Linked DNA regions of Homo sapiens. The protein of the gene in region 2 purifies or fractionates together with the protein of the main gene of each other region. This does not show direct contact. Each region holds a gene or a part of one and is shown on either strand. Other genes may lie near its edges. The genes, in order: PREP, CTH and ATIC.

Evidence for each region.
Region 1: the proteins of CTH (region 2) and PREP fractionate together in Homo sapiens (co-fractionation; one large-scale study listed by BioGRID). This does not show direct contact.
Region 3: the proteins of CTH (region 2) and ATIC fractionate together in Homo sapiens (co-fractionation; one large-scale study listed by BioGRID). This does not show direct contact.

Annotation. Positions count from the first base shown.
Region 1 is NC_000006.12:105,281,074-105,284,728, reverse strand, and holds part of PREP (prolyl endopeptidase), read left to right. Parts: intron 1-2,146; coding exon 2,147-2,278; intron 2,279-2,826; coding exon 2,827-2,983; exon of another isoform or gene 2,984-3,655. UniProt on the Homo sapiens protein: Cleaves peptide bonds on the C-terminal side of prolyl residues within peptides that are up to approximately 30 amino acids long.
Region 2 is NC_000001.11:70,428,240-70,431,894, forward strand, and holds part of CTH (cystathionine gamma-lyase), read left to right. Parts: intron 1-1,554; coding exon 1,555-1,612; intron 1,613-2,077; coding exon 2,078-2,155; intron 2,156-3,655. UniProt on the Homo sapiens protein: Catalyzes the last step in the trans-sulfuration pathway from L-methionine to L-cysteine in a pyridoxal-5'-phosphate (PLP)-dependent manner, which consists on cleaving the L,L-cystathionine molecule into L-cysteine, ammonia and 2-oxobutanoate.
Region 3 is NC_000002.12:215,343,044-215,346,698, reverse strand, and holds part of ATIC (bifunctional purine biosynthesis protein ATIC), read right to left. Parts: intron 1,921-3,655; coding exon 1,828-1,920; intron 1-1,827. UniProt on the Homo sapiens protein: Bifunctional enzyme that catalyzes the last two steps of purine biosynthesis.

The DNA.
Region 1 (3,655 bases), on a different chromosome or scaffold from region 2:
AATTGAATTCATAGACTAACCAGTGGTCTGAAGAGGTTCTTCACTTGTCCTGTGTCTTTGGGGGAGGGAGGACATGGGAAAGCACCTTCACCTCCATCAGCTCTATGCTTCCCCCAGTCTTTTCAGCCATCATTTATCATAAGGCCTACCAGGACCCCAGTGCTTGGGGCTGGTCAGCAGCTCCAGGTGAGAGGGGTCTCCTCAGCATCAGAGACCACCCTTAAGATATCTGTACCTCTCTTCTGTTTCCCATGCCATCCCAAACCAGAGGCCTGAGGCTCTGGATTTTTTTTGCATCAAATCAAATCAGCGAACATGAGGGTAAACCTGTTGTAAAGAGATTTCCATTAAGTACCTGTTAGGTACCATATGCAGGAAAGGCTTAGAAATGACCCCCGGGCATCCAGCATGCACCCCAGGGGCTGACAGCAGACTCCTCAAGTGCACCTTAGTGAAAGTGAGTGCCCCTGGCCGGCCATCTGGTCCATCGTTGCCAGTTATCATCCCCAGAAACTACTGATTGTGACTGTCTTTGAAACTGCAAAGAATTCATTGCATAATTTTGAGCTGATATTAGAGTTTACACTAAAATCATACTGTGAAACTGATATTAAAAGATGAGTGATAAGAGGATAAAATTTCTGTATACCATATGTTTGATCCCAAATATGTATGCTAATTCTGAACCCCTTGACTCACCTGATTTCCTATTTAAATTGTATGTAGTTTATGCACCATACCCCCTACTCATGGTCCCCTGATCCTGGGATCCTCTCCTGAAATAACTGGATTATTCTCCAGAAAACCCCTCTGGTCATCAGATGTCCACCATGCTCTGAGAGGGAAGAGTAATTTGGTCCTAGTCTGCTCTCTCATTTTTTATTAGTTAGAACCAAGTTATTTTCCAGTCTTGGGATTAGGCAGGTTCAAGATTGACTAAGGCTAACAGTAGACTATGTTTAGACTGATTTATAAACTTCCTCAAAATTTAGGCCATGATGAAAGGACCAGAAATAGACCTTTTCCAGTTATAGCCTAGGATATGATACACTGGTAAATCTAAATTCCATTCTGTTAATTGACTTTAAAATTTAATGCTCTTTTTAAAATGTAGTCATATACCCAAAATATTGTTATTCCTAGTAACTAAGTAATCCTAGCTGTTCTAAATTCACTGGTAATTTCTTACTGAAATCTTAATAACATTTGTTTTGATATGAAAAACATTTCAGTAGGACTGCTTTATCTTTAATTAAATTTCAGCAGAAGTGGTTAATCTCAAGTATCTAATTAGATCTGTGTCTGCTCTTTGTTCATTTCAAAGGCCGTTATTTCAGACATCTGTTCCTTTGAGGACATGCTTTTGACTTTTGGCCTTTACTTATAGATATTTCATGGCCCTGTAAATGTTTCTCCAAGTAATTTGTTTGGTTTAATACACTGGAACGATTTGCAGATGATAAAGCCCAGATTCTCTGGGGAAACGTTGAAGATCTTTCATTCTGGAATTGAGAAAACATAATGTGATGCTCTGCCGCAACGCTACCTCACCACCCAATTCCTTTTGTTCTTTCCATTAATAACCGAGGGCAAGACTGGGGAATTTCTTTCTCCCCATCACCGACCATGTCAGACTCCTGCAGAGGTGGGGTGGGAAGCGTGCCTCTGCAGAGCGCTTCCACCTCCGTCTTCGCGGGGAGGGGAGACACGAGCACTCCCACAGCCAGCTCCGGCTCGGGTGCTGGGTGCAACCTAGAGGACTAAACACTGCTGCAGGTCTTGCTTTATATTTGTAAGTTCAGCTTCCCAAAATACAGGTTCCTTGTGATGCCATGCTTCTATCCTTTCATTATCATACATCTCTCATAACCGACCATCTGTTCCCTTTGGGGCATTTCCCGTTTAAGTTCTAGAGGCTTTTAGAAAAATACAGATCCACCATATGGATTAGCATTGTGGTATTGATGATATATTTCCACAGTGCATAACAGAACTTAAATTGAGGCTTTTTTTTAAATGCAGTGTTAACCCATGGTTTTTAAGTTAATCAGTATTTGAAACCGTGCTCTATCATTTGAATTCCCATTAGATTAAACTTATTTTTATGTTTTGTTAATTAACTATCTTCCACTTTGGCACACTGTAGGTGGTATCTTGGCCAACAAACAAAACTGCTTTGATGACTTTCAGTGTGCTGCTGAGTATCTGATCAAGGAAGGTTACACATCTCCCAAGAGGCTGACTATTAATGGAGGTTCAAATGGAGGCCTCTTAGTGGGTGAGTACTGGATTTTATTCATTGCACTTACTAGTTAGCCCTCTTGGGGTTTTCAGATACACCATCTGTAGGCAGCTCTTGACTTAACTTTGTGGATAGGACCACAAAGTGGTATAAGGAGAGCAAAACCCATTTGTACCATTTGTATTTGGGTATCTGATAAATGACATACGAAGAGACCCTATTTATTTTGCCTTGGGCAGGTCCTGAGATCTTGAACAAGTCCCTTAATCTCCCTCATCACTGTGAAAGCAAGTGGGGATGGGAGGAGGGGATACAGGGTTTCCAGAAAGTCCTCAAGCTTTTCAAGATTCACTTTGGGGAGTAAAGCTCCATTACTGATGAGAATCCCCACCCCCTCTGACAGATCTCAGAGTGGGTGGGGAGCTTTGGGGCTATTGGGCAGGTGATTTCTGATGGTTTCCTCTTGTGCTCTGGATAAATGCAACCAGGGCTCTGGAAGCATGTAAGTAAGTATTGCCTTGCCTTGTTTATGTAGATGTTTAATGATAGACTGCCTCCCTTTTCTTTCTACGTTGGGCTTTTAGCTGCTTGTGCAAATCAGAGACCTGACCTCTTTGGTTGTGTTATTGCCCAAGTTGGAGTAATGGACATGCTGAAGTTTCATAAATATACCATCGGCCATGCTTGGACCACTGATTATGGGTGCTCGGACAGCAAACAACACTTTGAATGGCTTGTCAAGTAAGGTTTTATTGACATATATATGTTGTTAGTGGTTTGATATAAAGTTGAACACAGTCACAGCAGGATTAGTGCTTGAGCTTTGTCACTGTCAGGGTCTTGCATTTGCATATAATCTGCTGGAGAGGAGATGGGACTACCTACTTGTCTTTCTTGATTTAATATGGTCTTGAACAAAAGCAACAAACTACAAAAAATGTGGTAGGGCAGAATTCTACAGATGGCCTCCCAAGATTCCTACCCTGGTTATTCAAACACTTACCTAGATACTGCTTGCTGTCAGGGAGCAGGATATTCATCTGCTGCTCTTTGGATTATCTCTTGAGGGGTCCCAAATCACATAAACCCTTAAAGGCTGAGCACATTCTCTGGCTGGAGTCAGGGATGCAGCAGAAAGGGAGGTCAGAGAAATTGGAAGCTTGTAAAGGATTCAGCCTGCCATTGCTGGTTTTGACAATGGAGGAAGGGGGACCTCTAGAACCTGAGAGCAACCCCCAACCAATAGCCATCAAGGAAACAGGACCTAAGTCCCACAGCCGCACAAAACTAAATTCTGCCAACATCCCGAGACTGCAAGTAGGTTTTTTCCAGAGTTTCCCCGTAAGAGTCCAACCAGCCAACACCTTGACTTTGACCTTCTTTGACCTTGGAAGACCCAGAGCAGAGAACCCA
Region 2 (3,655 bases):
GAGGTGGGGAGGACAGAGGATGGTCAATGGGTACAAAGTTACAATTAGAAGGAGGAATAGAGGAATAAGTTTTGGTGTTCTACTGCACAAAAGGATGATCATAGTTACAATAAGATACTGTATATATCAAAATAGGAGAGAGGATTTTAAATGTTTCTACTACAAAGAAATGATAAATATTTGAGATGATGGGCATGCTAATTACCCTGCTTTTGATCATTACACAATTACACATGTATTGAGCATCACATTATACTCCATGACTTAAAGGATTAATTTACAGGAAAATTGGGTGAAAGAAAACACTTTTAAAAATTCCTTTTCATTTTTATTTTTCTTAATTCTCCCAGTTTCAGACATATTTATTTATTTATTTATTTATTTATTTGAGACAGAATCTTGCTCTGTCACCCAGGCTGGAGTGCAGTGGTGTCATGAAAAGCTCACTGCAACCTCTGCCTCCTGGGTTCAAGTGATTCTCCTGCCTCAGCCTCCTGAGTAGCTGGGATTACAGGTGCGTGCCACCATGCTCAGCTAATTTTTTTGTATTTTTAGTAGAGATAGGGTTTCACCATGTTGGCCAGGCTGGGCTCAAACTCATGGCCTCAAGTGATCCACCCACCTCAGCCTCCCAAAGTATTGGGATTACAGGTATGAGCCCCCGCACCCAGCAAATTTCTTTCTTTCTTGTTGTTTTTTAAGATAAAGTCTTGCTCTGTCACTCAGGCTGAAGTGCAGCGGCTTGATCATGGTCCACTGCAGCCTGAAACTCCTGATCTCAAGTGATCCTTCTGCCTCAGCCCCCTAAATTGCTGGGATTACAGGAGTGAGCCATTCTCCAACTCCCAGCCGTCTAGATTTCTTGTAATACCTAATACAATGTACATGCTTTATAAATGGTTGTTACACTATATTGTTTAGGAACTAATGACAAGAAAAAAGTCTGTACATGTTCAATACAGACACAACTGTTCATCTATTTTTCCAAGTATTTTTTTACCCATGGTTGGTTGAATCCATGGATGTGAAACCCACACATAGGAAGGGCTGAGTAATTAGGAATCAAGATCATGACAAACCCCAAATGTAAATAATCACAGCATACGTCATGAGGTTTTAATGATTAAAAATCTAAGCAGATGAGTTTATACTTACTCTACATAAAAATTGCTGAATGTTCATTTCAACTATTTTATGTGTTTAATGAGTCATAAAATACTAGAGTCTCTACTGTAGGTAATAAATTTAGAGTCCTGTCAGCAATTGCTATAAAGAAACAGGTTCAAGAGACCAGTTGACCTGGGCTTATCTGCGCTTTCCAAGAAACTTTTGCCTTCAGATTCAATACTGGATTCAATACTTTACATTTTTCTTTGGTGGGAGGGAGGCAAAGGAGAAATAATATCAGAGATCCTGGAAAATTTTAAGATGCACATACTTTTGCAAAGTTAGTATTGATTAGAATAAGAATGGAATTTATAATTGCAAATAGGCAGGTAATGAAGCATATTTTCAAATTGTTTCTCATTTAAAGTAAAAAACTTGTTCTTTCAGCGCCCTTTGGCTCTGGGAGCTGATATTTCTATGTATTCTGCAACAAAATACATGAATGGTAAGATGCATACTTTGAATGTTCTTTTTCATGGATAGGTGAAAATTGCATAGGGCTTGGCTTTTGATCCCTTTTCTTTGATTATTTTGTAGATTATTTCCTGTGACTCATAGAGAGAGTAAAAAAAAAAATCCTTTGATTAAATGTAGGATTTCATTAACAGTACACAAAACTATGCTCATGATTTATGAGAAGAGGATTAAAGTTGGCCATAAAAAGTTATGCTTTTATCTTGCTGACACCTTAAAGAAACATTTTGTTTTTATATAATTTTTATTTTCTTGTTTTAGACATAGCTTTTGCTACTGTCCAGTTGAATAAAGGTTACTTAAACTTATTTTATAGAGCTTTTTCCCTGAGAGTTTTTTCAAGTGAAAATCACATTTTGAAAATTATAAAATAAAGAGTAAACATAAATTGTTTCTAACTGAAATTTTTGTTTGTTTGTTTGTTTTTTGTTTTTAGGCCACAGTGATGTTGTAATGGGCCTGGTGTCTGTTAATTGTGAAAGCCTTCATAATAGACTTCGTTTCTTGCAAAACTGTAAGTATTAAAAAGTGCAGGTTCCCTATGACACTCTCAGTGACTACATTTGATATTTGTATTTCCACTAAGTGATGTGAAGTGATGGCATTCTAATAATTTATGAAGAAATGAAAAATAGAGGAGAAAAATTCTGATTTTTTTTATTTATTAATTTTTTTTTTTGAGATGGAGTTTCACTCTGTTGCCCAGGCGGGAGTGAAGTGGCGTGATCTCAGCTCACTGCAACCTCCACCTCCTGGGTTCAAGCGATTCTCCTGCCTCAGCCTCCTGAGTAGCTGGGATTACAGGTGCCCACCACCATGCCCAGCTAATTTTTTATATTTTTAGTAGAGACGGGGTTTCACCGTGTTGACCAGGCTGGTCTCAAACTCCTGACCTCAGGTGATCCACCTGCCTTGGCCTCCCAAAGTGTTGGGATTACAGGCATGAGCCACCGTGCCTGGCCAAAAAAATTTTTTCTGATTTTAGAGGAAAGTGTTATAAAAATAGTTATTGCAGGCTGGGCACGGTGGCTCATGCCTGTAATCCCAGCACATTGGGAGGCTGAGGCAGGTGGATCACTTGAGCTTAGGAGTTTGAGATCGGCCTGAGCAACATGGCAAAACCCTGTCTTTACCAAAAATACAAACCAATTAGCCAGGTGCAGTGGCATGTGCCTGTGGTCCCAGATACTCAGAGGCTGAGGCAGGAGGATTACCTGAGCCTGGGAGGCGAAGGTTGCAGTGAGCTGACATCGTGCCACTGCAATCCAGCCTGGGCAACAGAGTGAGATCCTGTCTCAAAAAACAAAAAACAAAAACGGTTATAGCATAGCAAGGCTTTATGATATGATATAAGAAATGAGTTTTTTTATTTTCATGTCCATCTTAATTATAATCATAATTTGATAAAGCCCTAGTGAATTTTTAGTTTCAAGACTTAATGGTTTTTTTTTCTTTTTTAAAATTACATTTGAAATGAGGGCTTTCATATACTATACCTTTTATATCACGAATGATGGTTAATTTTAAATAGCACTTACAGTATAAACTTACATTTTTCAATAGATGTCTAAACACCATTTCCTATTTACATTGCTTAGTTTATCTCCAGTATAGTTAAAGATTAAGCCATTGTAACTTGACAGGTAAAATATAAACATGATTAGGAATAAAAATGTCCTCCACAAGGGAAACTGAAACTTATTGCTTGATAAGTGTCCTTTGGTTTATAAAAAGTAGAAATGAAGTATATATCCTGGAGGCATGTGAAATCATTGACCGCTTTGCACAAAGGCTAAATAGAATATTAGTAGAATATTCAGTAATAATAGGACTTGAACTGCTGTTTTTCTCTGTATGTTAAAATAATTTTTCAAAGAAATACAAGGTTAGGCTATGAACAATTTATGATTTTATTAAAATCATAGAAAGGACTACTTATCTTCATATTTGAGAAGTTTATATCATTGTGCTTTTACTTAGTTTTCAGCATATTTGCTTCCCCTCATTTTAAAGT
Region 3 (3,655 bases), on a different chromosome or scaffold from region 2:
TCTTTTGTGCACATTCTCCAAAACCTATTTATTAGTTTTGTGGAAGAACATATCAGGCCAAAATAAGAGAAATATAAATAATTTTTAAGTCATTAAAAGGGGTGGAGTAAGAGGTTTGTTTATAACTACTATTTATACCTCTTCAGTGATATGTGACATATGACTATTAATAATCTACAATTCAATAAAATTGATGGTTTGAGGTCAAAAAAAAAAAAAAGTTAAAATAAATGACCAATGCTGGGTGCACTGGCTCATGCCTGTAATCCCAGCACTTTGTGAGGTTAGGACAGAAGGATTGCTTGAGCTCAGGAGACCAGCCTGGGCAAGATGGCAACATCTCATCTCTACAAAAAATAAGAATTAAAAAATAGCTAGGGGTAGTGGCGCACACCTGCAGTCCCAGCTACTCAGGAGGCTGAAGTGGTAGGACCGCTTGAGGCCAGGAGTCGAAGGCTACAATGAGCTATGATCATGTCACTGTACTCTGGCCTGGGCAACAGAGCAAGACCCTGTCTCTATAAAAAATAAATAAATAAATAAATAAAACTAATGACCACAAAAATAACTATGGTTACTTGAAAGTCTTTTGTTTGCCCCAGTGTATAAATTACAGTTAAAATATCAACTCTCAGAAATTGAGATAAGGATCTGACATGGGTAGCTAAAAGTAGAAACAATTCCGCCAGGTACAAATGTTCTTCCTTCTTTCCTCTATTTCTATGGGTTGAATTCTAAGCAACAAGGACTTAAATGCACAGGTGTGTTTTCTGGTTTTAGTTCCTATAATGAACAGCCCCTAAGCTGTCTGCCCAACAGTCCATCTCTTTCTGAGCACAGCTGCTGGCAACCCTGCCCACAGCTACAAGAGAATAAAAGAGACCACAAATACCTGGGCAGCCGCCTCCTCCTCAACATCAGGAATGAAGCACTCATTCTACATGGACTTACAGAACTTCTTAGAACCTGACACCAGTAGACACAATCTCCCAGGAGTTTGTTACTACAGAGACTGGCAATCTGGGGTCTTCCAGGCCATAGGCTAATTCATATCCACCCACCTCCCTGTCACTTGTGGGCCAAATAATTTAACAAATGCCAAGAGATAAGCTCAGGACACCAGGTGAAGAAAAGGCTAGCAGAGACCTCAGAGATGAACCAGCTCCATCTTGTATTCTGAGGCTCGGGACACTAGGAAAGAAGTGTAATATCTTGCTTAACGTCACACAGTGAGAAATGTTTGGTATTTAATTGTGGCAGCGGTCACATACTGTGAAATTTGTGAAAACTGGTCAAACTGTACTTTAAAAAGGTGAATTCTACTGTATACAAATTATGCCTCAATGAACCTAACTTTTTAAAGATGAAGTTAACTCCTAGTCTAGCAGTCTTTCTACTCAGCAGATTCTTGATAAGACAACATAAGAAATAATGTGAAAATACCCTGCAGGCTGCAAAAATATAGGCTGGTGGGTGGCAGTACCGTAACTTACCTCCTCTTCCCTGGAAATAATACCAATGGGGGAAAAGGAAAGGAAATAATCCAGTTTTGTAACAGCTATTAGAGTCTCACTAATCCAAAATGTGCCAACCTATTCAAGGCAAGAAGCAGCACAACTACTTTGAGTACCTGGTTCCAAAGATATTTTCTGATCATCATTAGTTTTAACAGCCCACCAGGGTACTGAGGAAACACTGACAAACACAAAAGACAAACATTTGGCAAATATTCCCTTTCAAGCTGTCCAATATCTAAGGCAGACGGATGTTTAAATATCATTTCGTAAAACAACAGTCCCCCGAAGGCGAGTCCAACAGCCCACTTACCTGCCCGTTCTTGGCGTAGCACACAGAGTTAGACTGAGTGTACTTGACAGCAATGGTGGCTACGATGAGGTCTCGGAGGGCAGACTCTGGCAACTGAAACACATACACAATGGTAAATTGCATGGGGCCTTTTAAACTCATTTAACTTTAAGCTTCTTTTTTTAAATATTATTTTTTGTGGTTTTTTTGAGTCAGAGTCTCACTCTGTCTCCCAGGCACAATGGGACAATCTCCAACGGCACAATCTCGGCTCACTGTAACCTCCACCTCCCGGGTGCAAGAGATTCTCACACTTCAATTACAGGCGCATGCACCACCATGCCTGGCTAATTTTTGTATTTTTAGTAGAGATGGGGTTTCACCATGTTGGCCAGGCTGGTCTCGAACTCCTGAGCTCAAGTCATCTACGTGCCTCAGCCTCCCAGAGTGCCAGGATTACAACAGGTGTGAGCCACCACACCTGGCCAACTTTAAGTTTCTTAGTTCTATTTAATGTAAAAGACCTACAACATAGTTATACCACTCAAATGACAGAGGGAAATTAACTGTTCTCCTACACACTACCATGATTTACTTAAATATTTAACACATTTGGGGTGGAACTTAGCACAATGCATCCATAGACACAAACTCATGTTATTTTGTAGCAATTGTGGATTAAGCCTTTTTATATCACATGAGGTAAGAACTACCATATCCATTCCAAAACTGACAAACAATATTTTCTTGACCAGAGTACTTTTAAATATCTGGAGACATGGTAAAATTTACGTTCAGAACCAATGCGGAGAATTGTTTCATAGACATCACAAATCGTTATGATGCACACAGACAGCCAAGACTTTGGAAAAATCAAATTACGATCATTTTCTCTTTTGTTTAGAATAACTTAAGTTGAAACTGTTCAAAAACCATTAGGAATTACCAGTCCAAATAGAACAACAAGAATAACGCCCAAAAATATCACTATCTTTAGTATCAGGCATGAATACAAATGGAAAAGAAGGATGATAGTCCACGTCTGTATGCTAAATGGACAGAGGATATTTGCTACAGCCAACAGATAAGTTGATAAATTTGACTTCAGTAAAATTAAGAACTTTTCCTCTGTAAAAGATTCCTCATTAAAGAGGATGAAAAGACAAGCTACGAACTAGGAGAAAATTATTAACAAACCTCATATCCAACAACAAACTAGCACCTAAAACATAAAAAAACTTTAAAAACTCTGTAACAGGACAGGCGCAGTGGCACATGCCTGTAATCCTAGCACTTTGGGAGGCCAAGGCGGGTGGACCACCTGAGGTCAGAAGTTCCAGGCCAGCCTGACCAACATGGTGAACCCCATCTCTACTAAAAATATAAAAATTTGCCAGGTGTGGTGGCGCATTCCTGTAATCCCAGCTACTTGGGAAGCTGAGACAGGAGAACCACTTGAACCCGGGTGGTGGAGGCTGCAGTGAGACAAGATCATGCCACTGCACTCCAGTCTAGGTGACAGAGCGAGACTTCATCTCAAAACAAAACAAAAAAACTCAGTAACAATCAAAAATTTAATTAGAAAATGGGCAAAAGACAGACATTTTCACCAAAAAGGATACACATGTAGCAAATAAGTACACAAAAAAATGTTCAACATCATGAGCTATTATGCAAATTAAAATCAGTGAGAGATTGCTACACAACTATCCCATGTCTTTAAAAAAAAAAAAAAAGTAGCAATACCAAAAGCTAGTAAGGATGCAGAGACATTGGATCACTCATCCATTGCTGGTGGGAATACAAAATGGTACAAGCCACTCTGGAAAACAATTCAGCAGTTTCTTAG